3 separate regions of the Homo sapiens genome follow, and regions 1 and 3 are each linked to region 2. Evidence: fine-mapped expression QTL. A gene starts in region 2. Each other region holds a variant in brackets. All regions are shown on one strand. Distances are between the middles of the regions. Region 1 overlaps ICAM5 (intercellular adhesion molecule 5). Region 2 holds the start of ICAM1 (intercellular adhesion molecule 1). Region 3 overlaps ZGLP1 (zinc finger GATA like protein 1).

Region 1 (8,820 bases), 26 kb before region 2:
GACTCCGTCTCAAACAAACAAACAAACAAACAAACAAACAAAAAAAAAAACAGAAAGAAAAAGAAAAAGTAATTGCAGTTTTTGCCATTACTTTTTTTTTTTTTTTTTCCTCTGAGACAGTCTCACTCTGTGGCCCAGGCTGGAGTGCAGTGGCGTGATTTCAGCTCACTGCAGCCTCCGCTTCAGGGTTCAAGCAGTTCTCCTGCCTCAGCCTCCCAAGTAGCTGAGACTACAGGGGTGTGCCACCATGTCCGGCTAATTTTTTTTGTATTGTTAGTAGAGACAGGGTTTCACCATGTTAGCCAGGCTGGTCTTGAACTCCTGACCTCGTGATCTGCCCACCTCGGCCTCCCAAAGTGCTGGGATTACAGGCGTGAGCCACCATGCCCTGCCTGCCATTACTTTCAATGGCAAAAACAGCAATTACTTTTGCACCAACCTACTAAAATAAATATCTCATCTGAAGGCTCTGAAAGAGACCTTGAGGTCAGTAGGAGCGGAGAGAGATCATTAAGTAGGGAGGGCACAGGCAGAAAAGGTGAGGTGCTGTTAGTGGCAGGGACTGCACCTGGCTGGTGCCTTTTTGGGTGTTATACCTGGCCCCTGGCTCCAGCACCGAGCACTGGCCTGCCCTCTTGTGCCATTTCCCCGTCTCATCTTTGCTCATTACATGTTTGCATGGGACTGGCTTCCTTCTCTAGGGCTCCGTGTTCCTGCTTTTGAGGGAGGAGGGGCAGAGGAGGAGGCTGTGGGGAGGAGGCCCAGCTGCTGTGCCTTATGCTGTTGGGGATGAGGGGGGAAGGTGCCGTGTAGTGGGGGTTGCAGCGGATACCCTGTGTGTGTCTGTTCTGAATCATGATGGGCTGAGTGGAAAGGCAGGGTGGGGGTAAACTGAAGCACTGTGGGTGGACACAGGACAAAGGAGGCATTGAGGGCGGGGCAGGGGTGCCCCCTTTAACAGGGAGGACATGCTAAGGGCTGACACCCATAGCATCAGCCAGTGCCTGCCCAGGAAGGTCTCACCGAAGTCTCAGGGCAGGGGCACAACGGAGAGGGCCTCCACCCACCCTGGCAAGGCGGCCTCAGCTCTGCCGGTAACCAGGCCTGGGGGAAGCACCTAGCCCCCACCTCCAAGAGTGACCCGGATCAGAGGGCAGTGCTGGGTGGAAGAGATAAGTAGGAGGAAGGAGTGAGGCCCCCACCCCTGCCCAAGGGTGTGAAGAGAGCAGAAAACAGGCACTGAGAGAGGACGAGCTCTAGGTCACACTGAGAAAAGACAGCCAGCCGGGCCAGGCACAGTGGCTCAGGCTTGTAATTCCAGCACGTTGGGAGACCGAGGCAGGTGAATCACGAGGTCAGTAGTTCCAGACTAGCCTGACCAACATGGTGAAACCCTGTCTCTACTAAAAATACAAAAATTAGCCGGGCGTAGTGGTGGCGCGCGCCTGTAATCCCAGCTACTCAGGAGGCTGAGGCAGGAAAATCGCTTGAACGTGGGAGGCAGAGCTTGCAGTGAGCTGAGATTACACCACTGCACTCCAGCCTGGGCGACAGAGAGACTCCGTCTCAAAAAAAAAAAAAAAAGAAAAAGAAAAAGACAGCTTAGATTGTGCCTGATGCATAGTAGGTGTTCAAAAAAAGTTTTTGGATTTTTTCGTTGTTTGTTTTTAGAGACAGGGTCTGGTTCTGTCACCTGGGCTGGAGCACAATGACGATATCATAGCTGGAAGTGGCTTTGACCTCCTAGGCTCAAAGGATCCTCCTGCCTCAGCCTCCCAAGTAGCTGGGACTACAGGCATGCACCACCATGTCTGGCTAATTTTTGAAAAATACACCAGGCATGGTGGCTTACAGCTGTAATCCCAGCACTTTGGGAGACCGAGGCAGGTGGATCACCTTAGGTCAGGAGTTCGAGACCAGCCTGGCCAACATGGTGAAACCCTGTCTCTACTAAAAATACAAAAATTAGCTGGGTGTGGTGGTGCATGCCTATAGTCCCAGCTATTTGGGAAGCCAAGGCAGGGGAATTGCTTGAACCCAGGAGGCAGAGGTTGCAGTGAGCCAAGATCACACCACAGCACTCCAGCCTGGGTGACAGAGCAAGACTCCATCTCAAAAAAAAAATTTTTTTTTTGAGGCCGGGCGCGGTGGCTCACGCCTGTAATCCCAGCACTTTGGGAGGCTGAGGCGGGTGGATCTCGAGGTCAGGAATAGAGACCATCCTGGCGAACACGGTGAAATCCCATCTCTACTAAAAATACAAAAAAAAATTAGCTGGGTGTGGTGGCAGGCGCCTGTAATCCCAGCTACTTGGGAGGCTGAGGCAGGAGAATGGCATGAACCCGGGAGACGGAGCTTGCAGTGAGCAGAGATAGTGCCACTGCTGTCCAGCCTGGGCGACAGAGCGAGACTCCATCTCAAAAAAAAAAATTTTTTTTTGAAACATGTTTTTTTGTAGGGTCTCGCTATGTTGCCCAGGCTGGTCTGAAACTCGTGGGCACAAGGGATCCTCCCACCTGGGCCTCCCAAAAGTCCTGGGATTACAGGCTTGAGCCACCATGCCCAGCCCCCTCAAAAAACACTTTTTTTTTTTTTTTTTTTTTTTTGAGACAGAGTCTAGTTCTGTTGCCCAGGCTGGAGTGCAATGGCAAGATCTCTACCTCCCGGGTTCTAGCAATTCTCCTGCCTCAGCCTCACGAGTAGCTGGGATTACAGGGCGTGTGCCACTACAGCCCAGCTAAATTTTTGTATTTTTTTGTTTTTGTTTTTGGTTTTTTTTTGAGACAGAGTCTCGCTCTATTGCCCAGGCTGGAGTGCAGTGGTGCGATCTTGGCTCACTGCAACCTCTGCCTCCGGGGTTAAAGCGATTCTCCTGCCTCAGCCTCTTGAGTAGCTGGGACTACAGGCATGTGCCACCACGCCCGGCTAATTTTTGTGTTTTTAGTAGTGACGGGGTTTCACCATGTTAGCCAGGACAGTCTTGATCTTCTAACCCCATGATCCGCCCGCCTCAGCCTCGCAAAGTGCTGGGATTACAGACGTGAGCCACTTCACCCGGCCTTAATTTTTTTGTATTTTTGGTAGAGAAGGTGTTTCACCACGTTGGCCAGGGTGGTCTCGAACTCCTGACCTCAAGTGACCCCCCCCCCCCGCCTTAGTTTCCCAAAGTTCTGGGATTCAAGCGAGAGTACTGTGCTCGGCCCTGGCTAATTTTTTTTTTTTTTTTTGAGACGGAGTCTTGCTGTCTGCCAGGGTGGAGTGCAGTGGCGCGATCTCGGCTCACTGCAAGCTCTGCTCCCCGGGTTCATGCCATTCTCCTGCCTCAGCCTCCTGAGTAGCTGGGACTACAGGCGCCCGCCACCACGCTCGGCTAATTTTTTTTTTTTTTTTTTTTTTGTATTTTTAGTAGAGACGGGGTTTCACCGTGTTAGCGAGGATGGTCTCGATCTCCCGACCTCGTGATCCGCCCGCCTCGGCCTCCCAAAGTGCTGGGATTACAGGCGTGAGCCACCACGCCTGGTTTTTTTTTTAAGACGGAATCTCGCTCTGTCGCCAGGCTGGAGTTCAGTGGCACGATCTCGGCTCACTGCAACCTCTGCCTCCGGGGTTAAAGCGATTCTCCTGCCTCAGCCTCCCGAATAGCTGGGACTACAGGCGCGCACCACCATGCCCAGCTAATTTTTGTATTTTTAGTAGAGACAGGGTTTCACCATATTGGCCAGGATGGTCTCGATCTCATGACCTCGACCTCGTGATCTGGCCGCCTCGGCCTTCCAAAGTCCTGGGATTACACGCATGAGCCACCGCGACCGGCCTTGGCTAATTTTTGAAAAATATTTTTTGTAGGGTCTCCCTATGTTGCCCAGGCTGGTCTGAAACTCTTGGGTGCAAGGGATCCTCCCACCTGG[G/C]CCTCCCACAAGTCCTGGGATTACAGGCCTAAGCCACCACCCCAGGCCCTCTCAAAAATCGCTTTTTGAATGAATAACTCGGGAGGTCACGACTGGAACCCTGGGCTTGTTCCACCTTGCAGAAACAGAAGCGGAGACAGGGAGTTCCTTTATAAAAACTTTATTGAGGGGATGGGTAGAAAATGGGGGTGACGCCCTTGGAGTTGAATACATAAATAAATGAATAAGTAAATAAATAAAGCAATAAATAAGCCCCCGTGTGAGTCTGGGGGGCGTCCCCCGGCCCGCGGGGAGAGGGGAGCGGGCTCACGCCGATGTCAGCTGTATGGCGAAGACCTCGCCCTCCGCCGGCGACTCGGCCGCGCCCCCCGCCGCCTCGGGTCCGCCCTCCGCGCCTGCCGCCCCGCCAGCGCCGCCGCCCGCTCCGTTCAGACACACGGCCTCGCCTGAGCTCTCGGCCTCCTGCACGTTGTACTCGCCCTTCTTGCAGGCGGTGGACTGCACGTAGAAGGCCAGGCCGGCCCCCGCGGCCAGCAGCGCCGCGCCCCCCGCCGCGCCGCCCACGGCGACCCATAGCCACGGACCTGCGGGGTGGAGACCCTCGCGGAGGGTGGCCAAGCTCCGGGGGGCTTCTCCCACCGCCCCCCGCACTCCCACAGGCACGAAGTCAGTCCTCATGCCCCGGGGAGCTCACTGTCTGGCCTTGGGAGAAGGGAGACAACCCATGCAATAAGGCCACTCCCAGTGCCAGGGCGACCCGAGTCCCGATTTATATCGCACTTCAGCCCATGGGGATATAAACCCGTGACCACACTTAGCCCCCTGGCGACAAGTCAACTCTCCCCATCCCCCAAAAAATGAGGACCGGCAGGACCAGGTCAGGTTCCCCCGACCCCAGAGAGAACCCAGCCCCAGGAGCTTCAGGAAGTGAGAGAAGGCGATCTTGACCCCTCTCTCCCTCCAACATCCAATGACTTTGGTCCCTCCCCAATCTTCCCCACAGTGGATTGTGAATTGGGTCAAGTTTCCACCACGCAGAATCCAGCCCAAGTTTTAAAGTCCTTTCCTGCAGCAGTGACAGCCCCGGAGGGTCCCTCCCCTTGAATTCAGTCCCCCTGCCACCTCCATCTCCCACCCCTCAAAGTGCGATCAACAGCCCCACCCGCTAAGGCACCTTTGACTTCTACTCTGTCCCACTTCCGTCTAGTCTACCGGGACCGAGAGGGAGGCAGGCGGGGCCGGCCGCCCCAAGACCCAGGTCACGCCCCCTCTCAGATACCTCGCCCCGCCTCTCCCCAGCTGCCACTTACCGGCCACGCGCACCGTGATGCGCCGCGCGTGGCGCCCGTGCGCGTTGGTGGCTGCGCACTCGTACTCGCCGCCGTGGCTTCCCATGGCGCCTGCCACGCTCAGTGTGCTGTTGTTGCTCGACAGGCCGATGTTGAGGGCCCCCGGGGGCGCGCGCCAGCTGATCTGGGCTGGAGGCCAGGCCTCCGCGCGGCAGGTCAACGTGAAGTTTCCTCCTGGGCGCACGCCTCCAGGGGGCGAGGCAGCAAGTTCGGCCACCACTGGCCGGTCTGAAGGGCACAGAAGGTGAAGTGGGGCTTAGCGCCGGCCCAGCCACTGATCAAATGCCCTGCTCCGGCCCACAACGATCGATGGGAGACCACCGCGCCTCTGATGGGCAGAAGAGGATCCTGCCTCCTATCAGAGCCTCCTTCCCCGACAATCAGGCTGCTGTTGCGGCTAAAATTCCTCGCCCTTCTTCACCGAATGGAAGGAGGTGAAGCCCAGGTCAGTGTTCTAATCCAGGATTTGAGGAGGGCCGTGCTCCTATTCCCTATAATTTTCTTTTTCTGTTTTTCTAAGAAAGAGTCTCACTCTGTTGCCCAGGCTGGAGTGCAGTGGCGGGATCTCGGCTCCCTGCAACCTCTGCCTCCCAGGCTCAAGCGATTCTCCTGCCTCAGCCTCCCAAGTAGCTGGGACCACAGGCGCCCACCACCACGACCGGCTAATTTTTGTAGAGACGGGTTTTCGCCATGTTGGCCGGGCTGGTCTCGAACTCCTGGCCTCAAGTGATTCATCCGCCTCAACCTTCCAAAGTGTTGGGATTACAGACCTGAGCCACTGCGCCTGGCTAGAATTTTCATTACCCCCTGGTTTAGGCTGGAATTCCCTGTCCCCGAGAATGGGATTGGGAGAGGTGCCCTTGAATGCTCCCACCGCTGCGAGTCATTCTTCCGAGGACCGTGTCCCCTCCATCCGGTGCTGCCCCCACTCACATTCCACGCCCACAGTGACGGTCCGGGAGTCCGTGCCATGCGCATTGGTGGCCACACAGTGGTAAGTGCCCGCGTCCTCTCGGGACACGCGCTGCTGCTCAGGCCATGGGATGCCTTCCCGAGAGCAGCGCACTCCTGGGGAAGGGCGACCCCGGGCGGCGCAGGCCAGCGCGGAAGCCTCAGCCCCTTCCAGCCACGTCTGGTGACTTGGGCAGGTAGATTCATCCATCTCCGGTGGCGCTGCAAAGCAGCCATGGGGGATGTCAGGGAGTGCCTGGACCGTGGGGCACCCCTGCTCCCTACCCGCCTGGGCCTCGCTCACACTCCGCGCTCACGACGACTGTTTTGGCCACGGAGCCGTGGCGGTTGGTGGCGTTGCAGACGTAGATACCGGGTGCCAGGACTCTAGGGATTCTGGGAGCTCTGGGACTAGGGTCTGGGGGTGCCAGCGGCAGCAGCACCCCCTCAGTGGCGCCCCCGGAGCCCACGCACTTCACGCTTGGCTGTGGCTTCCCATCGACCTCACAGGAAAACAGGCGCCCAGATCCTTCCACCCATGTCCAATTGCTGGGGCAGCTCGGCTCCTCAAACCTGGGGCCATCTGGGAAACAGGATTGCAGGGGCTCACACGGGGGCCAGGAAGTCCAGCCGGGGTTGTCCCACAGATCCTGCCTAACTCCGCGGTGCCCCTACTCACATTCCACCGTGACGGCCACATTTTTGGCCGCAGAGCCCCGAGGGTTGGTGGCTTCGCAGCGGTAAGTGCCCGCATGCTCCCGGGCCACACGCAACAGCCCCTCGATGACGGCCCCGAGTTCTCCAGAGCGCACGCAGATCACATCAGGCGGCGGTACCCCGTGCGCCACACAGCTCAGCGAGGCTTCTGTTCCCTCCAGCCAAGTAATGCGTTCTGGGCAGCCCACGCTGTCCAGCGCTGGTGCGTCTGGAGGAGGGAGTGTATTGTTGGCTTTGGGGTTTGGGGGCAAATCTGACGTCCCTAGACCCTCCTTGGCGCGGCAAGGCTTCCACGAAGTGTTGTCCCTGCATAACCCTTGGACGCCGATCCAAGGAGGTGTCACGCTAGTCGAGGCATGCACTCTGTCTGGGAGCTTCCTGAGCCACCAGTGGCGCCTTTTTCGTCTAAAAACTTAAACACTCTGGACTGCCCGCCTTTCCACGACTCCGCCCAAATACCACGCCCTAGGCTAGGGGCACGCCCACCCGGTCCCTTCCATCCTCCAAGATCTTTCTCCAACCCCACTAACCAGCCTCTTCCCTTTCCCAAAACCTCACCCAAAGGGACACCTCATACCCTACTCCTACTCTTCCCTGGAGGCTGGCCACCCTCCAGACCTTGAACCAGATAGAAATGCACCCTGCGCACCCCCACTCACACTCCACCGTTAGCGTTACGTCCTTGACCGCCTCGCCTTGATCATTGGCCGCCTTGCAGCGGTAAGTGCCTGAGAGCGCCCGAGTGACTGGACCCAGCAGGCCCAGAGCCAGCACGGCCCCGCCGTCGGAGCGCGCACAGTGCACTGAGGGTTCTGGGTTCCCGCGGGCCTCGCAGCGCAGCGTCTGCTCTGGGCCCTCGGGCCACGTCCAACTCCTGGGGCAGTCCGAATCGTCTAGCCGGGGAGCGTCTGCGGGCAGGGCGTGGGGTTACAGAGGCTTAGACGTAAGAAATGGCTCCGCCTCCACGACACGGTGAGGGAGCAGGCGGGTCCTTGGAAGTCACCAGAAGGTGGGGGGCGAGGGGTTATCACCAACTCACATAGGACACGAAGCTCTGCGCTCCTGTTCTTGATCAGGGTCTCCCCGTCCACATCGAGGGTGGCGTCGCAGAAGAAGCTGCGTCTGTCGTCGTTCTCGGTGGCATTTAGCTGAAGCTGGGCGGGCTGCCCCGGGACCGCGGCTGGAACTCCCTCCAGTGTGACCAGAGCTTGGGCCCCAGCTGCGCAGGTTACTGTCACCATCTGCCCCTCGGAGACGCTGGGTTCGCTCAGGGTCAGGAGTGGTGCCGGGAAGCCTGGGGGCGGAGCATTTGGTCGTAGTATACTGACCATACCCCTCCCTCCGGTCAAGGCCCGCCCCTTATCTGCCCGAATCCTCGGGGTGCTGAGAACGAACTAGGGTACGGCGCCCCGCCTCTCAGGCTGTACAGGCTCCTCCTCCCCAGCGATTACGTCTCCGCCCCCACCTGCCCCGCCCCTCGGGCCACGCCTGTTCCGGTACTGAGGTCCCGCCCACTCTTCGCCCCGCCTTCGCATTCCTCTGGTCCCACCTCGGAGCCGCGGAGACCCCGCCTCCTTCCTTACTGTAGATGGTCACGTTCTCCCGGGTCTCCCGGTTTTCGCCCCCCAGGGTGACGTTGCAGACCAGCTGCCTGGCACCCTCCTGCTCTGCGCTAGCTGTGGCTGTGGCAGTGGCCACGAATGCGTCCCCTTCGAGGGTGACATCAGGACTCAGATTCTGGTCCCCCAGTGCGAGGTAGACCCTGGCCTCTGAGGCTGGAAACAGTCCGTCCAGAGTGCAGCTCACGGGCCTTTCCGAGCCAACTTCCAAGAGCCGGGGAGCAGCGAGGCGCGGGGCATCCGGAGACAGGGCTAGGGGTCGAAGAACCAAGTTTG
Region 2 (9,883 bases):
CCGCCAGCCTCAGCCTCTCAAAGTGCTGGGATTACAGGCATGAGCCACCGCACCCAGCCTGTAAATACTTTAATTGTACCCAAAGAAATTCACAAAGGGACTTTCCAAGGATGTCCCCACCTGCCCTGCAAGGAGCCCCTCCTTGACCCTACGAGCAAGTGGCAAAGATTCCCCCAGGCCTCTGCAGGTGCCCCTGCACGTCTCTCCCACCGGGTCTGCCTAGTCCAGCCCTCCGGGCTCAGTTACTCACAGTACACGGTGAGGAAGGTTTTAGCTGTTGACTGCCCATCAGGGCAGTTTGAATAGCACATTGGTTGGCTATCTTCTTGCACATTGCTCAGTTCATACACCTTCCGGTTGTTCCCAGGCAGGAGCAACTCCTTTTTAGGCAACGGGGTCTCTATGCCCAACAACTTGGGCTGGTCACAGGAGGTGCTGCATGTCACCAGCACGGAGCCTCCCCGGGGCAGGATGACTTTTGAGGGGGACACAGATGTCTGGGCATTGCCAGGTCCTAGAAGAAACGAGGGAAGAGGCGACAGGCATTACAAATCAGGTTCATCAAGGGAATGTGCGCCCAGCCTGTGCTGGGTGCTGGAGGCACAGCCTTAACAAGACAATACTTTGCCTTCGATGTGGAAGTTAAAGAGAAAATTCATGAGCAGGCCGGGTGTGGTGGCTCACGCCTGTAATCCCAGCACTTTGGGAGGCCAAGGCGGGCAGATCACTTGAGGTCAGGAATTTGAGATCAGCCTGGCCAACATGACAAAGCCCCGTCTCCACTAAAAATACAAAAATTAGCTGGGCATGGTGGGACGTGCCTGTAGTCCTAGCTATTTGGGAGGCTGAGGCACAAGAATCACTTGAACCTGGGAGGTGGAGGTTACAGTGAGCCAAGATTGTGCCACTGCACTCCAGCCTGAGCAACAGAACGAGACTCTGTCTCCAAAAAAAAAAAAAAAAAAATTATGAGCAAACAAGATAATTAATAACTGATGTTAATATGAGCTTTGACAAAAACAAAACAGGGTGATAGAATAGACAGTGCTTTGGTGACAGGGTAATGTTTCAGCAGAGATCTAAATGACGAGAAAGGGCTGGCTGTCCGGAGAAAAGGGAAATAAGTTCCAGGCAAGTACAGATGTCCCGGGGCAGGGTGGCTGGAGCTGAGTGAGCAAGGATGAAGAGGGGGAGATTAATTCAGGAAGATCCCGTGAGCACTGAAGGCCATGCTAAAGATGTGTTCTTTTATTTTTTTTTTTTTTGAGATGGAGTCTCGCTTTGTCACTCAGACTGGAGTGCAGTGGCGCAATCTCAGCTCACTGCAACCTTTGCCTCCCGGGTTCAAGTGATTCTCCTGCCTCAGCCTCCAGAGTATCTGGGATTACAGGCAAGCACCACCACGCCCAGCTAATTTTTGTATTTTTAATAGAGACGGGGTTTCGCCACGTCGGCCAGCCTGCTCTCAAACTCCTGGCCTCAAGTGATCCGCCCGCCTCAGCCTCCCAAAGTGCTGGGATTACAGGCGTGAACCACCACGCCCAGCCACATGTGTTCTTTATACTGAGGGCAATAGGGAGCCATGGAAGGACTTTAGCCATCACTTTTTTTTTTTTAAACGGGTCTCCCTCTGTTACCCAGGCTGGAATACAGTGGCACAATCATAGCTCACTGTAACCTTGAACTCCTGGGCTCAAGTGATCCTCCCATCTCAGCCTCCCAAGTAGCTGGGACTACAGGACACCACCATACCCGGCTAATATTTGAAAAACATTTTTTTTTTTTTGAGACGGAGTTTAGCTCTTGTTGCCCAGGCTGGAGTGCAATGGCACGATCTCAGTTCACCGCAACCTCCGCCTCCCAGGTTCAAGCGATTCTCCTGCCTCAGCCTCCCGAGTAGCTGGGATTACAGGCATGCGCCACCACGCCCGGGTAATTTTGTACTTTTAGTAGAGACGGGGTTTCTCCATGTTGGTCAGGCTGGTCTCAAACTCCTGACCTCAGGTAATCCGCCCGCCTCAGCCTCCCAAAGTGCTGGGATTATAGGTGTGAGCCACCGCGCCTGGCCCTGAAAAACATTTTTGTAGAGATGGGGTCTCACTATGTTGCTAAGGCTGGTCTCAAACTCCTGGCCTCAAGTGATCCTCCCGCCTAAGCCTCCCAAAATGCCAGGATTACAGGTGTGAGCCACTGTGTCCAACCAGATTTTAATGTGAAGTTGGTGCCCTCCTCCCTCCTAAGAAGTCAGGTGGAGACAGTCAGCCCTCCAGGAATCAGACTGGCTCCTCACTCCCTGAGACACGTAGTTTCCCCCTCTTTGGGCCTCAATTTCCCCATCTGTAAGGTGGGTGAGTATAGCCACCCCATCCCTTGCTAATACAAGTAACTCAGCACAGGATGGGTAGCAACTGGCTACCTTGCAGGTAAGAAAGAAGGGGCTTACGGGGTGGGCACTGTGGCTCACGCATGTAATCCCAGCACTTTGGGAGGCAGGGTGGGCAGATCATGAGGTCAGGAAATCGAGACCATCCTGGCTAACACAGTGATTAGCCGGGTGTGATGGCACATGCCTGTAGTCCCAGCTACTCAGGGAGGCTGAGGCAGGAGAATCGTTTGAACCTGGGAGGCAGAGGTTGCAGTGAGCCGAGATCACGCCACTGCACTCCAGCCTGGGCGACAGAGTGAGACTCCGTCTCAAAAAAAAAAAAAAAAAAAAAAGAAAAGAAAAGAAAGAAAGAAGGGGCTTATTTGGATCAGGTCCCTCAGATTCTGCTGCCTCCGAAGGTGGGAAAAAATGTCTGAGCCCAGCACTGCCTCACTCAAAGATTCCTGTCTCAGATTTGTTCTATCTTGGATGGGGGTGTGAGGACACTGGCTCCATACATTCTCCAAGGGAGATTCTGGGACCATTCCCATTTCATAGAGAGAAATGGTTACTCAGCTAGAAAGCAGTGCGATCTGGGTCTGAGTCCGGATCAGAACGCTTTGTTTTTTGAGACAGAATCTCGCTATGTCTCCCAGGCTGGAGTGCAGTGGCACAATCTTGGTTCACTGCAACCTCAGCCTCGTGGGCTTAAGGGATTTTCCTCCCTCAGCCTCCCGAGCAGCTGGGATCACAGGCGCCCACCACCATGCCAGCTAATTTTTGTATTTTTAGTAGAGACGGGATGTTGCCATGTTGGCCAGGCTGGTCTCAAACTCCTGACCTTAAGTGATTCGCCCGCCTGGGGCTCCTAAAGTGTTGGGATTACTGGCATGAACTACCGTGCTGGCCTGGATCTCAGGCTTTGTTGAGCTGTTAACCAAGCTGTCAATCTCCCACCCTCCTGGTTCCCCAAACTTACACCACCATGAAAGACCCTCTGACCCCTTCCCTCTTCCCTAGCTGGGCTGGAGCTGGGGGAGGGTGTGCTGGGGCGTCCCACTTCTCAGCTTTGGGCCACGGATAAGTCAGCTCTGGAATTCCCCCAAGTAGAAGCAGCCCTGGACTTCCCCAGGGGCAGAGAGGATGAGGAACAGAATATACATCTTGAGGGGGGTGGGGGTCCCTTAAGCCTTGTTGGGTTGGCACAGAGCCAAGTTCCCAAACCATCATGATCGAGTCCTGGGGCCAGGTGCTGCGCTGGGCCAAGATACCCTGCCAGGTGGCCGCTATAACGTTTCCCGTTTTACAGCTGAGAAACTGTAAGAGACGCAATCTAGCCAAGCAAGGCGGTGGTTCACACCTCTCATCCCAGCTACTCGGGAGGCTGAGGCAGGAGGTAAGGCTAGACCCCCGGAGTTCAAGACCGGCCTGGGCAACAAAACGAGGCCCGCCCCTCCCCTCCATCTCCAACCCCCTACCCTTTTTTAAAGCTGCAATCTATAGCCCAAGGCCACACGTGGAGGTATGCAGGGTCTGGATTCGAACCTACTGGCTGTTGCCTTTCAATCGCTGTCTCTAGCCCCTCCTTCCCATAAACAGCTACCTAAGCATGCATGACCTGACCCGGGAGCCGGTCCTCCCGGGGCTTCGGAGAACTGGCCCGACGGCAATCCCCACCCCGACTCACCTGGGAACAGAGCCCCGAGCAGGACCAGGAGTGCGGGCAGCGCGGGCCGGGGGCTGCTGGGAGCCATAGCGAGGCTGAGGTTGCAACTCTGAGTAGCAGAGGAGCTCAGCGTCGACTGGGGCGCGTGATCCTTTATAGCGCTAGCCACCTGGGGGCCAAGGGGCGGTGCTGCTTTCCCGGAAACCTCGCGCCTTCCCCTCCGGAACAAATGCTGCAGTTATTTCCGGACTGACAGGGTGCCCGGGCCGAGAGGGTCATCCTCCCTCGCTGGCCGCTTCAGCTCCGGAATTTCCAAGCTAAAGCAATCGGGCGGCGGTGGCAGGGCGATGACCCCGGGGGCTGCTCCCGGCCTCCACGCCTCCCGTTTCCCGGCCAGGCTAAGCTTGAATCACGGTCTACACCGCGCTAAGCGGTTTATTAAGTACTTTTAAATACTGCCAACTTCCCCGGAGAGTGGAGACTGTTATTGTGTCCATTTCACAAAGCGGTAAACTGAGACTCCAGGCTGCGAGGGGGTCCGAACTCAAGTCCTCCCTCTCCAGCTTACGCAGGCCTCTTTAATCGAGTGGATGAGCCCCCTGCCTGGGTGGGGGCCCAGGAATCCTCCCCGGGCTCCCTCCACTGAGGGATGCCCCTCCCCCTAGGTCACGTCCACACCTAGCTGACACGGGCATTTCTCGAGAAGCGGCCAGAGCAGAGCCAGGCACCTCCCGGCGACCGCTAACCGTGGGAGTGACGAAGCGCGGTCTCACCACGTCCGGGGAAATCGGCGTCCTCTCTCTACACCCGAGGGCACTCACCCCGGCGGCCTCCTCGCTTCCCCTTTCGGCCTTGGCCGCGGAGGCGTCTTTACAGCTCCCAGAAAAAGGAAGGAAGCTGCGTGATCCCTACGCGCCGAGCCCCTCCGCTGGCGTCCCAGGCTCCGCGGGGAAACTGAGGCAGCTAGCTTGGATCTTGACGAGGGAGGGGAGGGGGACGCTCGAAATCCCTGCCTGTCGCTGGGAAACTGAGGCAGCAGCCCCCAGGCGCAGAGGCGAGGCAGGGAGAAGGGGCGCTCGAACCCCTGCCCTACGCGCGAGGCTCCGGCAACTCGAACCCAGGCTCATGCACTAAATATGAGCGGGTGTTTGCTTGGCCACCGCCTGTGCGTGTGACCCCAAGACTCGACATCCACCACGTCGAGGCTGGGTACTCTTAAGTCTCCGAGCACCAAGCCGCGCCGCCTAAGGCTTTCCTGTTGTGGGGCGCGCGCGGCGTCGCCATGGAGATCTCCGAGGGGCCAGGGAGGTCGCGCAGCAGAAGGGGAAGCGAAGGGTCCCCGGACGCGCAGGCCCTTCCTATCGGGGAAGGGGGCTGCGAGTCACTGGCCATCCAGAGACGCATATTTCCCCCGCCTCGGTCATTCCCAAGGAATTTCCACGGGGATATTTTTTTCTTGGGGGGCTGAGGAGTTCTGAATTCCCGCCCCGGAACGGCCTGAGCAAAGTCACAGGGTGGGACGGGGGACGCCCCTGGTCCTCAGAAGGCCTGGGAAAATCCTGCGCCACGGGTTCTTCCTCGGGCGGGTTCCACTGAGCTCTTGCCCCGGCCCGAGGTGCGCGAGCTCCCCCGCGCGGCCCAAGTCCCACTTGCAGCCACAATGGTGCCGTTCTTTTCTCAACATGTGGCTCAATGTTTTTTAAGCGCCTACTGTGTGCTTGGCGTCCTTCCAGGTACTGGGGACACAGGAATGAACAGAGTCAGACAAAAATCCACCTGGGCGCGGCTCCCACCTGTAATCCCAGCATTTTGGGAGGCCGAGATGGGAGGATCACTTGAGCCCAGGAGTTCAAGACCAGCCTGGGCAACATAGGGAGACCCCCATCTCTATGCAAAATACAAAAATTAGCCGGGTGTGGTGGTGCACACCTGTAATTCCACCTACTTGGGAGGCTGATGCAGGAGAATCTCTTGAACCCGGCAGGCGGAGGTTGCAGTGAGCCAAGATAGAGGCACTGCACTCCAGCCTGGGTGAGAGTGAGACTCAAAAAAAAAAAAAAAAAAAAAAAAAAAGGAACAGCCAGGAGAACAGTGTGGCTGGAGCAGGCTTAGCAAAGGAGAGATTCGAGGAGAGGAGCGGGCAGGGAGATGACAGGGCAGATAGGTGCAAGTTCCTGTCACCTGAGGAGGACTTTGTTGTTTTGTTTGTTTGTTTCTGAACCCCAGTCTCGTTCTGTCACCCAGGCTGGAGCACAGTGGTGTGATCTCGGCTCACTGCAAACTCTGCCTCCCAGGTTCAAGCGATTCTCCCACCTCAGCCTACCGAGTAGCTGGTACTACAGGGGTGCGTCACCACGCCTAGCTAATTTTTGTATTTTTAGTAGAGATGGGGTTTCACCATGTTGGTCTCTAACTCCTGACCTCTAGTGATCCGCCCCCCTTGGCCTCCCAAAGTGCTGGGATAACAGATGTGAGCCACCGTGCCTGGCCAGGACTTTGGCTTTTATGCCCAGCGAGGTGGGAGGTATAGAGGGTTCTGAGCAGAGGAAGGACCTTGCCCTAACTCAAGTGTTCACAGGGGCCCAGTTGAGGCTTCAAGAGCTGCAGCCAGGAGATGGGAGAGGAGGTGACTGTTCTAGTCCAGATGAATGATAGTGGGGCCTGGACTGGGCAGTGTCCTTGGAGAAAGGGCTGAATTTGACATCCGTTTTGGAGGCTGGGCCAACTGGAGGTGCTGGGACAAGGGGGATGACTCCTTGATCAGGGTCCGAGCCTTTTGGAGGATGGCGGGTCACTTTCTGAGATGGGAGTGGGATGGCTATGGTAGGGGGCAGGCTGGCAGAGAGAGACGGCACCTCCCAGTCCTCCGTTCCCTTAAGCGTTTTTCAAGGAAAAGGGAAGCAGATATTTCCTAGACCTTTGTTTCTGTCTCCAGGAAGGGCAGGGCTTCCTCCCGGTTGCCAGACAGTCAGGCAGGCCAAAGAATGGCCTCAGACCAGAGGCTGCCCACCAAGGGCAGAAGCCATCCCATAGTGTCCCATGCAAACGCCTTGCAGTTCCCTCAGCCTGGAATGCTCTTCCCTTCAACCCCAACAAGGCTGGCTCCTCCTGTCTTGTGGCCTGAGCTTTCTCCTAAATGAGTGTCCCCCCTACTCCATCCTGGGCCACATCCTGGGCGTTCCTTGTCACTCGCCTTAATATTCGAATTCCTTAACTCATTACTTGCTGAATTTCTTTTTTAATTTTTTGAGACAGAGTTTCACTCTGTCACCCTGGCTAGAGTGCAGTGGCACGATCTCAGCTCACTGCAACCCCTGCCTCCCAGGTTTAAGTGATTCTCCTGCCTCAGCCTCCCGAGTAGCTGGGATTACAGACATACGCCACCAGACCCGGCTAATTTTTGTGTTTTTAGTAGAGACGGGGTTACACCATGTTGGCCAGCCTGGTCTCAAACTCCTGACCTCAAGTGATCCACCTGCCTTGGCCTCCCAAAGGGCTGGGATTATAGGCATGAGCCACTGCTCCCGGCCTATTTAGTTTTTTTTTTTTTTTTTTTTTTGAGACAAAGTCTCGCTCTGTTGTCCAGGCTGGAGTACAGAGGTGTGATCTCGGCTCACTGCAACCTCCGTTTCCTAGGTTCAAGAAATTCTTCTGCCTTAGCCTCCCAAATAGCTGGGATTACAGGCACCCACCAACACCCCTGGCTAACTTTTGTATTTTTTTTTTTTTTCAAGATGGAGTCTCACTCTGTGGCCCAGGCTGGAGTGCAGTGGTGCGATCTCGGCTCACTGCAACCTCCACCTCCCAGGTTCAAGTGATTCTCCTGCCTCAGCCTCCCAAATAGCTGGGACTACAGGTGCGTGTCACCACGCACAGCTAATTTTTTGTATTTTTAGTAGAGACAGGGTTTCACCGTGTTAGCCAGGATGGTCTCGATCTTCTTACCTCATTATCTGCCTGCCTCACCCTCCCAAAGTGCTGGGATTACAGGCGTGAGCAAACGCACCCGGCCAACTTTTGTATTTTTATTTTACTTTTCATTTTATTTATGTAAATTTTTGTGAGGTCGTCTCACTCCGTCGCCCAGGCTGGAGTGCAGTGGTGCAATCTCGGCTCACTGCAACCTCTACTTCCCAGGTTCAAGCGATTCTCTTGCCTCAGCCTCCCAGGTAGCTGAGACTACAGGTACCCACCACCACATCTAGCTAATTTTTGTATTTTTAGTAGAGATGAGGTTTTACCATGTTGGCCTGGCAGGTCTAGAACTCCTGACCTCAGGTGATCCGCCCGCCTTGGCCTCCAAAAGGCGTGAGCCACTGTGCCCGGCAGAGCTTATCTTTGATTACAGATTTCTTCTGGGGAATAGCTTAGTTTGTGGTTTTGTTTTTCAAAACTCTGCTTCAGCAAAGATGTGGGGAAAAAAAAAGGGCTATGGAAACTCTTCTGATTCCAGTTTTGGTGATGGAAGACAGCCACCAGGAAACCCTGCCGAAAGAATGGGTCAGATCAATAATCTGAGCGGTCCCAGTCCTCCTCCAATGGCTGATGGATGAGGAAGGTAAATATCAGTTCTAAGAAGCAGACAACTGGACATGCACATTCATAGCAGAAGGAAACCGTCAAAAAGTAGAGGGAAGGTGGGGTGCAGTGGCTCACCCCTGTAATCCCAGCCCTTTGAGAGACTGAGGTGGGAAGATCACTTGAGATCAGGAGTTCAAGACCAGCCTGGGCAACACAGTGAGAACCTGTCTCTACAAAAAACAAAATAAGTAATCCCAGCACTTTGGGAGGCCGAGGCAGGCGGATCACGAGGTCAGGAGATCGAGACTATCCTGGCTAACACAGTGAAACCCCATCTCTACTAAAAATACAAAAATTAGCCGGGAGTGGTGGTGGGCGCCTGTAGTCCCAGCTACTCGGGAGGCTGAGGCAGGAGAATGGCGTGAACCCAGGAGGTGGAGTGCAGTGAGCCGAGACCATGCCACTGCACTCCAGCCTGGGCAACAGAGTGAGACTAAGTCTCTAAATAAATAAATAAATAAATAATAAATAAAATTTAAGGCCGTGTGCAGTGGCTCACACCTGTAATCTCAGCACTTTGGGAGGCCAAGGCAGGAGAATCACCTGAGGTCAGGAGTTCGAGACCAGCCTGGCCAACATGGTGAAACCCTGTCTCTACTAAAAATACAAAAATTAGCTAGGTGTGGGGACGCGGGCCTGTAATCCCAGCTACTCGGGAAGCTGAGGCAGGAGAATTGCTCGAACCTGGGAAGTAGAGGTTGCAGTGAGCCGAAATCACGCCACTGGACTCCAACCTGGACAACAGAGTGAGACTCTGTCTCAAAAAAATAAATAAAATAAAATTTAAAAAGTGGAGGGCTGACCATGCTGGACGAGCAGATAAAATGTGTATGTCTAAACAACAGTTGCTGACCAGGCACCTGTCATCCCAGCACTTCGGGAGGCCGAGGTGGGTGGATCACTTGAGGTCAGGAGTTTGAGACCGGCCTGCCCAAACTGGTGAAACCTCATCTCTAGTAAAAATAAAAAAATTAGCTGGGCATGGAGGCACAAGCCTGTAATCTCAGCTACTCAGGAGGCTGAGGCATGAGAATCTCTTGAACCCGGAAGGTGGAGGTGGCAGAGGGCTGAGATCATGCCACTGCACTCCAGTCTGGGCAACAGAGTGAGATCCATCTTAAAAAAATAAAACACAAGGATTGCTCTGTCTTCACAAGTGAATGAGGTCATGCTGGGAATTCCCTCTGCAGGGACTGGACTGACCAACATGCAGTTCTCTAAATAAATGCATATTTATCTGATTATCATTTTTGTGTAGTTAAGCATTAACA
Region 3 (8,470 bases), 35 kb before region 2:
GGGCTAGCGTGGAAGGCCCCGCCCCGGCAGCTGCGGAGGGATTTGGTGGGGTCCAGGCCGCCCTTGCCACGCAGGGGTGCGCGGATGACCTGAAAAAAGCCAGAAAGAGGAAAGGTGCCGCCGAGGCTGGTCGCTCTCAGCTGGGGCTCATCGCATCCTCTACCAAGAGCGCTCCCACCACACAGGTCCCGCCCCTCCCAGGTGGGTTTCATCGGGTGGGCCCAGCGGGACAGGGCCGGGTGAAATTAGGGAGGGGGCTGGGCTGGGGCGCAATGGAGGCCGAGCCAATCCCGGACTCCTCAATGCCAGCAAAGCTTCTGGCGCCGCCCTGTCTGAACCTGGAGCGGCTGGGAGGATCCCCCTCCCAGGAGAAGCCGAGGACCCCAGGATGCTGCAGAATCAGTGAGAGGTGCGTAAGGCCAAACCCCATTCCCCGGACCCCGCTAGCACTTCACCACCTGGCTCAGTGATCAAGGGGTCATGACCTCTCTTTGCTGGGGTTATCGAGAAGTGGCAATTTTATAATAGTTACTGAAACTTACAAAGAGGTTCTGGTGCCCAGAGACACTTGGGGTCATCTAGGGATCAGAGGCCATGCAATTCCATGTCTCTGGGGCTGATGTAGGCACTCCCCAGGGATCATCCAGGGGTTATGGAGGGCAACTCAATAATAATGAAAATGATAAAAATCGTAATCATATTATGGCAAGCCAGCGGCGTGGTGGCGCGTGCCTGTAAGTCCCAGCTACTCGGGAGGCTGAGGCGGAAGGATCGGTCGAGCCCAGGAGTTCTAGGCTGCACTGAGTCCTGATCACGCCCCTGCACTCCAGGCGGGGGTACAGAGTGAGGCTCGGTCTCTAAAAGAAACACAAAGAAAAAAAGTAACCTTTTTCTCGATCCTGCAGCCAGAGGCTTGATATCCTGCCTCGGTCACCTAGGGCGGTCCCTGCCTGGGTGATCTACGGGTGCCGTAAGGGGTTGATTGATGTGGAGGGCTGGGCGTGCCTGGGAGGCCCACAGTGGGCGAGGTGAGTTGCAATTACTGCAACTCTTAAACCTTCCACCCAGAGTTAGAAATGACTGAACCTCAGGTGGGGTGTGTAGCCTGTCCAAGGGTACACAAAGAGCCGGCCCAAGTTGGAACCCCCTGGCCGGCTAAACCCAGGAGTCACCCAAGAAAACGTGACCCCACTGCCCTTCTCCCCAGGTCCCTCTGGCCTGCATGCCAGGAGTCGGTCACCGCCCTGTGCTTCCTCCAAGAGACAGTGGAGAGGCTGGGTCAGTCCCCTGCCCAGGACACCCCGGTCCTGGGGCCTTGCTGGGACCCGATGGCTCTGGGGACTCAGGGCCGCCTGCTGCTGGACAGGGATTCCAAGGACACACAGACCAGGATCAGCCAAAAGGGCCGCCGTCTGCAGCCCCCGGGGACTCCCTCGGCCCCACCCCAGAGAAGGCCCCGGAAACAGCTGAACCCCTGCCGGGGCACCGAGAGAGTGGACCCTGGGTTCGAGGGGGTGACTCTGAAGTTTCAGATAAAGCCGGACTCCAGCCTGCAGATCATCCCCACGTACAGGTAGGGGCCGGCTGGGGCCAGGCCGCCCTTTCTCCCAGTTACAACGCAAACACCAGTGTGGGAGGTAGGGGTGCTCTCTGGCGTCGGTGTGGACCCTCACCTGTGCTCTACGTTACACGTGGCCCAGTCTCTGGTTGACAACTTGAGCTGGTGCCAGATACAGTCCTGCCGCTCCTGACTCAGTGGCTCCCCACTCCCAATGTGAGACCTGGTCTCTTTAGGAATCAGGCCTGGCCTTGCTTAGGCTGCAGCTGCGGCTGCGGTGATTTTTCCCAATAATGCTAACAGCTACTATTTGTTGGTAGTGACAACAATAAGAGGTTAACAGGCAGTATTTTATGTGTATGGGCTCATTCAAAAGCCTGGGGAGGCCGGGCACAGTGGCTCACGCCTATAATCCCATCACTTTGGGAGGCCAAGGCGAGCAGATCACCTGAAGTCAGGAGTTTGAGATCAGCCTGGCCAACATAGTGAAACCCCATGTCTACTAAAAATACAAAAAATTAGCTGGGCGTTGTAGTGGGTGCCTGTAATCCCAGCTGCTCAGGAGGCTGAGGCAGGAGAATCGCTTGAACTCAGGAGGTGAAGTCTTCAGTAAGCAGAGATAGCGCCACCTCACTCCAGCCTGAGCCACAGAGTGGGACTCAGTCTCAAAAAAAAAAAAAAAACTAGCTGGGAATGGTAATGGGCACCTGTAATCCCAGCTACTTGGGAGGCTGAGGCAGGAGAATCGCTTGAACCCAGGAGGTGGAGGTTGCACTGAGCAGAGATGGCACCACTGCACTCCAGCCTGGGTGACAGAGCAAGACTCCATCCCCTTAAAAAAAAAAAAAAAAAAGCTTTGGGAAGCTGGGCCTGGTGGCTCACACCTGTAATCCCAGCACTTTGGGAGGCCAAGGTGGGAGGATTGCATGAGCCCAGGAGTTCAAGACCAGCCTGGGCAACATAGTATGACCCCCAGCTCTAATTTTTACCTATTTATTGTTATTATAAAAATTATAATTATGACTTTTTTAATCATGCCGCCAAAACAATATTTTTTTTTTTTTTTGAGATGGAGTTGCACTCTGTCGTTCAGGCTGGAGTGCAATGACACAATCTCGGCTCACTGCAACCTCTGCCTCCCGGATTCAAACGATTCTCCTGCCTCAGCCTCTGGAGTAGCTGGGATTACAGGTGCCTGCTACCACGCCTGGCTAATTTTTGTATTTTTAGTAGAGATGGGGTTTTGCCATGTTGGCCGGGATGGTCTCGATCTCTTGACCTCAGGTGATCCATCTGCCTTGCCCTCCCAAAGTGTTGGGATTACAGGAGTGAGCCGCCACCATGCCTGGCTGCTTTTTTTTGCTTTTGTTTGTTTGTTTGTTTTTGAGACAGGGTCTTGCTCTGTCACCCAGGGTGGAGTGCAGTGGCGCAATCATGGCTCACTGCAGCCTGGACCTCCCAGGCCCAAGCCATCCTCCCTCCTCAGCCTCCCAACTAGCTGGGAGTGCAGGCCTGTACCACCACTCCTGGCTATTTTTTTTGTTTGTAGAGACGGGGTCTCCCTATATTGCCCAGACTCCCATCTCTTTTTAAAAATCAATAAATCAAATTTTCAAAGAAAAAAAAACTGTTGTATTGGGAAGCCCATTTTACAGATGAGGAAACTGAGGCACAGAGTAGGAGATAATGTGTCCAGGCTCACACAGCAAGGACATGGAGAACTGGGATTGGAACCTGGCAGGCTGTCCCTGTGCTTACTATTTTTCAAATAATAATAATAATAATTAGGTCGGGCACGGTAGCTCATGCCTGTAATCCCTGCACTTTGGGAGGCCGAGGTGGGTGGATCACTTGAGGTCAGGAGTTCGAGACCAGCCTGGCCAACATGGTGAAACCCCGTCTGTACTAAAAATACAAAAATTAGCTGGGCGTGGTGTCGCGCGCCTGTAGTCCCAGCTGCTTGGGAGGCTGAGGCTCAAGAATTGCTTGAACCCGGGAGGTGGAGGTTGTAGTGAGCTGAGATGACACCACTACACTCCAGCCTGGGCAACAGAGCGAGACTCCATCTGCAAAAATAATAATAATAATAATAATAATATTACTAATGAGAGGCAAAGCCAGGCCATTCAGATATTAGTTGCCTCCTCGGGGGATGGCTGATACCTTGATACTAAATCTTCATTTCGGAGGGCTGTTGGGGACAAGCTACAGATCCCCCCCAGTGCTAATACCTTGTCTGCCCCACAGCCTGCCCTGCAGTAGCCGTTCTCAGGAATCCCCTGCAGATGCTGTTGGGGGCCCTGCAGCCCACCCAGGAGGCACCGAGGCCCACTCAGCAGGCAGCGAGGCCCTGGGTGAGTCCTGAAAACCCAAGAGCTATAAATATTTTGGGGGCCAATTTCCTGTCTTCCCTGCCTTTCTCCCTGCCCCC[C/T]CCTTCTCCATCTTGCTTCCCCATTTAGAGCCCTCAGGGAGGAGTCGCAGCACCCCCCTCCACTTGGGCTGAGTCACCCCCACCCCCAGCTTCCTCCTCTGCGGAATGCTGCCATCTGTCTCCCTTCCTGGCTTTGCTGTGGCTTAGAGCTGGCAACTCCCAGGGCTGATCCAGAGCTAGGTGGGGCCTTTACTGAGACCCCCACAAAATGCCCGACTCCGCACAGGCATCCCGAGCTCACATGCTTGGCCTCTGACCCCTGCCCTTTGACCTCTGACCCTTCAGAGCCCCGGCGCTGTGCTTCCTGTCGGACCCAGAGGACCCCGCTCTGGAGAGACGCTGAAGATGGGACCCCTCTCTGCAACGCCTGTGGGATCAGGTCCTTAGAATGGAGGAGGGAGTTGGGGCGGGGGTCCCCAAATCAGTCCACGTGTAACCAGGATGGCCTGTGGGGAAAGCAAAAAGCAAAACACCTACCTCTTGGGAAAAGTGGTTTCCTTGTGGCGGTTTCCGGGCCCCCACTGCATCCTAAATGGCAGTTTCTTGTCCCCCAACCCTAGGTACAAGAAATACGGCACTCGCTGCTCCAGCTGCTGGCTGGTGCCCAGGAAAAATGTCCAGCCCAAGAGGCTATGTGGCAGATGTGGAGTGTCCCTGGACCCCATTCAGGAAGGTTAAACCCAGCTTCACCCTGCTGAGCTGCTGCTTCTGCCTCCGTTTCACCAGTGGGAGAATGGGCAGAAGCAGCTCTCCTAGGAGGATTGGGGAAAGAGCCGGCCTGCCTCCTCTCTGCCATCTCCAGATTCAAGGATCCCGGGGGAAGACCCAGGCCTCAGGTGGCAGAGCCTGCTAGGGGTCACCAGCCCCTTCTCCAGTCAGCCTTGGCCGAGGCCCCCTCAGGAGACGCTCTCAGGAAGGATGAGCATTGTTACAGCAGGGACAATAAAGTACAGAGATATGCCGAGAGAAAAAGCCTGTGATTTGGGATCCCGCCTCCTGTGCCCCTGTGCCAGCCCAGGAAGGTGGACAGGTGTTTTCTCGTTGGGGTTGTGAGGGGCGTGCACACACGTGCGCATGCACAGAGACACAGTCTTATCCACAGGCAGCAGCCCCCACACAGGGAATTAGCCACATTTACCACAATGTCCCATGCAGGGAAACAGCCACTACCCACAGACACACACAACAGATACAGAAAGACACACACAAGCCGGGTGCAGTGGCTCACGCCTGTAATCCCAACACTTTGGGAGGCTGAGGCAGGAGGATTGCTTGAGGCCACGAGTTTGAGACCAGCCTGGGCAACATAGTGAGACCCTGTTATATACAGAAGGGAAAAAAAAAGACACATGTCTAGCCAGGCACAGTGGCTCATTTCTGTAATCCCAGCACTTTGGGAGGCTGATGCAGGTGGATCACCTGAGGTCAGGAGATCGAGACCAGCCTGGCCAACATGATGAAACCCCGTCTCTACTAAATATGCAAAAATTAGCCAGGCGTGGTAGCATGTGCCTGTAATCCGAGCTACTTGGGAGGCTCAGGCAGGAGAATCGCTTGAACCTGGGAGGTTGAGGTTGCAATGAGCCAAGATCGTGCCACTGCACTCCAGCCTGGGTGACAGAGCGAGACTCTATCTCAAAAAAGACACATGCAAGACAGCCGTGCGTGCTGACAGACACATCAGCAGAGACACACGTCGACAGGGATATGCTGACACGTAGCTGAGTCACACACAGATACAGCCCACACAGGACACATGCACCAGACACACGTAAAACACACAAGTAGATGGCACACACTGGCAGCATATACCAGTGGATCCTTCATCTGTCACCCAACCCCTGCCTGCAGTGTGTCACTCTCCTTAGCCCCTGCTGTGTCCCCTACCCCCTTTTAAGATCTCCCTAATCCAGCCAAAATGTGTCTCCCGGGCCTGAAGTCAAAAGCCCCAAGTCAGAGGCATCTTTCAGCAGGCGGGACACACAGGCCACCAGCACTCACAGGGAGGGAGGGAGGATGGAGAGTCAAGACTGGTGGCGGGCTGGGCATGGTGGCTCACACCTGTAATCCCAACACTTCAGAAGGCAGAGGTGGGAGGATCGCTTGAGCCCAGGAGTTTGAGACCAGCCTGGGTAACACAGTGAGACCCCGTCTCTACCAAAAAATCAAAAAATGAGCCAGGGGTGGTGGTGCATGCCTGTAGTGCCAGCTACTCAGGACACTGAGGTGGGAGGATCACTTGAGCCCTGGAGGTCAAGACTGCAGTGAACCGTGATCGTACCACTGTACTCCAGCCTGGGTAATAGAGGGAGACTTGGGGAAAAAAAAAAAAGTAGGGTGGGCATGGTCCTTGCTGTGGGCGTGAGTGAGCCACAAAGCCACACACCCTTATGAGATCCTCTTTGTCTCTCCTGGGCAGCCCTGAATGGGAGAACTGGAGTCCAGATTCCTCTGCCCTCAGATCCCTGAATTATTTGATCTTACCCTTCCTTGGCCTGAAACACCCTCCCTCCACATCTCCCCATGGCTGACACCTTCTAATCGCTTGAGGAGGCCTGGCCCCAACATCAGCTCTTCAGAGAAGCCTTCCTTGACCACTCAGACTAAAATAGACACCTCCCCCGACTCAGGCCGGGTGTGGTGGCTCACACCTGTAATCCCAGCACTCAGGGAGGCTGAGGTGTGAGGATCACTTAAACTCAGGAGTTTGAGGCTGGGCTTGGTGGCTCACACCTGTAATTCCAGCACTTTGGGAGGCCAAGGCAGGAGGATCACCTGAGGTCAGGAGTTAGAGACTGGTTAACATGGTGAAACCCCACCTCTGCTAAAACTACAAAAAATAGCCGGGCGTAGTGGCAGGCGCCTGTAGTACCAGCTACTTGGGAGGCTGAGGGAGGACAATTGCTTGTTATCTACAGAATGAAAAAAACAAGACACATGCCCAGCCAGGCAGAGTGGCTCATTCCTATAATCCCAGCACTTTGGGAAACTGAGGCAGGTGGATCACCGGAGGTCAGGAGTTCGAGACCAGCCTGGCCAACATGGGGAAACCCTGTCTCTACTAAAGATACAAAAATTAGCCAGGCGTGGTGGCATGTGCCTGTAATCCCAGCTACTTGGGAGGTGGAGGTTACAGTGAGCCGAGATCGTGCCACTGCACTCCAGCCTTGGAGACAGAGACTCCATCTCAAAACAAAAACAAAAACAAAAAACTAATTAAAAAATAAAATAGGCCAGATGTGGCTCACAGGCTCACACCTGTAATCCAAGCACTTTGGGAGCCCAAGGCAGCAAGATCACTTGAACCCAGGAGTTCAAGACCAGCCTGGGCAACATGGTGAAACCCCGTTTCTACCAAAAATACAAAAATTAGCCGGATGTGGTGGCATGCACCTATATTCCCAGCTGCTTGGGAGGCTGAGGTGGGAGGATCACTTGAGTCTGGGAAGTTGAAGCTGCAGTGAGCCACGATCGTGCCACTGCACTGCTGCCTGAGCAACAGAGTGAGACCCTGTCTCCAAAAAAAAAATAAAATAGACATTCCCACTCTCACCCTGTGTCAGCCTCCGGTTCAGCTCCTTGCTGGTCTCCCTCTTAGAACCTATCAGAATTTCCATTGTCTGGAAGCCTTCCTTGACCACTCAGTCTAAAATAGAAAGGAAGGCTTATGGTTACATTATCCACATCCATCTCCCCTACTGCCCCAGGAGTTCTCAAGTCTGAGGTCGCCACATCTATGTCCTTGCCCACGACAGGCCTCTCCAGTGCCAAGTATAGAGAAGCTCTCTGCAAGGACACACCTTGAACACATATCTGCAAGCTCGTGGCTGTCTTTACCCACTTATTCAACATTTATTGAGCAACTGTGTGTGCTAGGACCCAATGAGGACCCTCAGTGGTGAACAGAACAAAGATCCCTGCTCTACTGGGGCTGATGTTCTAGGAGACAGTAAAAAAAAAAAAAAAAAAAAAACTCAGAGGCAGGACGCGGTGCCTCATGCCTGTAATCCCAGCATTTTGGAAGGCTAAGGCAGGCGGACTGCCTGAACTCAGGAGTTTGAGACCAGCCTGGGCAACACGGTGAAACCCTGTCTCTACTAAAAAACAAAAAATCAGCCAGGTGTGGCGGCATGTGTCTGTAGTCCCAGCTACTCGGGAGGCTGAGGCAGGAGAATTGCTTGAACCTGGGAGGCAGTGGTTGCAAGGTTGCAGTGAGCTGAGAGCACACCACTGCATTCCATCCTGGGTGACAGAGAGAGACTCCCTCTCAAAAAAAAAAAAAAAAAAAACCTCAGGTGTATGTCTAAGAGGATGTTAAGTTGTGAGCTGGGCTACAGAGAAAAAGTGTGCAAGGAAATAAAAGAGTTAAGGAGGTCGGGCGTGGTGGCTCATGCCTGTAATCCCAGCACTTTGGGAGGCTGAGGTGGGCGAATCCCTTGAGGTCAGGAGTTCGAGACCAGCGTGGACAAAATGGTGAAACC

Evidence for each region.
Region 1: its variant is fine-mapped to the expression of ICAM1 in blood mononuclear cells (TOPMed, PIP above 0.99).
Region 3: its variant is fine-mapped to the expression of ICAM1 in whole blood (TOPMed, PIP above 0.99).

Annotation. Positions count from the first base shown.
Region 1 is chr19:10,292,011-10,300,830 of GRCh38, reverse strand. ICAM5 (intercellular adhesion molecule 5) reads right to left here. Exons shown (of 11, transcript NM_003259.4): 4 at 8,509-8,796; 5 at 7,965-8,219; 6 at 7,585-7,833; 7 at 6,888-7,133; 8 at 6,513-6,791; 9 at 6,191-6,430; 10 at 5,219-5,485; 11 at 4,053-4,492. The coding sequence ends at 4,215. Among named protein-coding and RNA genes, the nearest start is that of ICAM5, 6.5 kb to the right of the region's middle. RefSeq lists enhancers at 948-1,197, 8,032-8,820, silencers at 1,104-1,268, 8,305-8,404 and a cis regulatory region at 557-1,389. The variant G/C (reference allele first, on the strand shown) is at 3,909.
Region 2 is chr19:10,265,396-10,275,278 of GRCh38, reverse strand. ICAM1 (intercellular adhesion molecule 1) reads right to left here and starts at 4,159. Exons shown (of 7, transcript NM_000201.3): 1 at 4,053-4,159; 2 at 251-514. The coding sequence starts at 4,119. It overlaps LIMASI (lncRNA inflammatory and mucous response associated, antisense to ICAM1), which reads left to right. Exons shown (of 4, transcript XR_007067138.1): 2 at 8,485-8,589. RefSeq lists enhancers at 3,358-3,597, 4,508-4,597 and a silencer at 6,952-7,246.
Region 3 is chr19:10,301,288-10,309,757 of GRCh38, reverse strand. ZGLP1 (zinc finger GATA like protein 1) reads left to right here. Exons shown (of 5, transcript NM_001409033.1): 1 at 1-409; 2 at 1,208-1,573; 3 at 3,806-3,912; 4 at 4,275-4,368; 5 at 4,550-4,955. The coding sequence starts at 273. The coding sequence ends at 4,667. FDX2-ZGLP1 (FDX2-ZGLP1 readthrough) reads left to right here. Exons shown (of 9, transcript NR_176052.1): 5 at 1-409; 6 at 1,208-1,573; 7 at 3,806-3,912; 8 at 4,275-4,368; 9 at 4,550-4,955. Among named protein-coding and RNA genes, the nearest start is that of ZGLP1, 4.3 kb to the left of the region's middle. RefSeq lists an enhancer at 3,697-4,896. The variant C/T (reference allele first, on the strand shown) is at 3,990.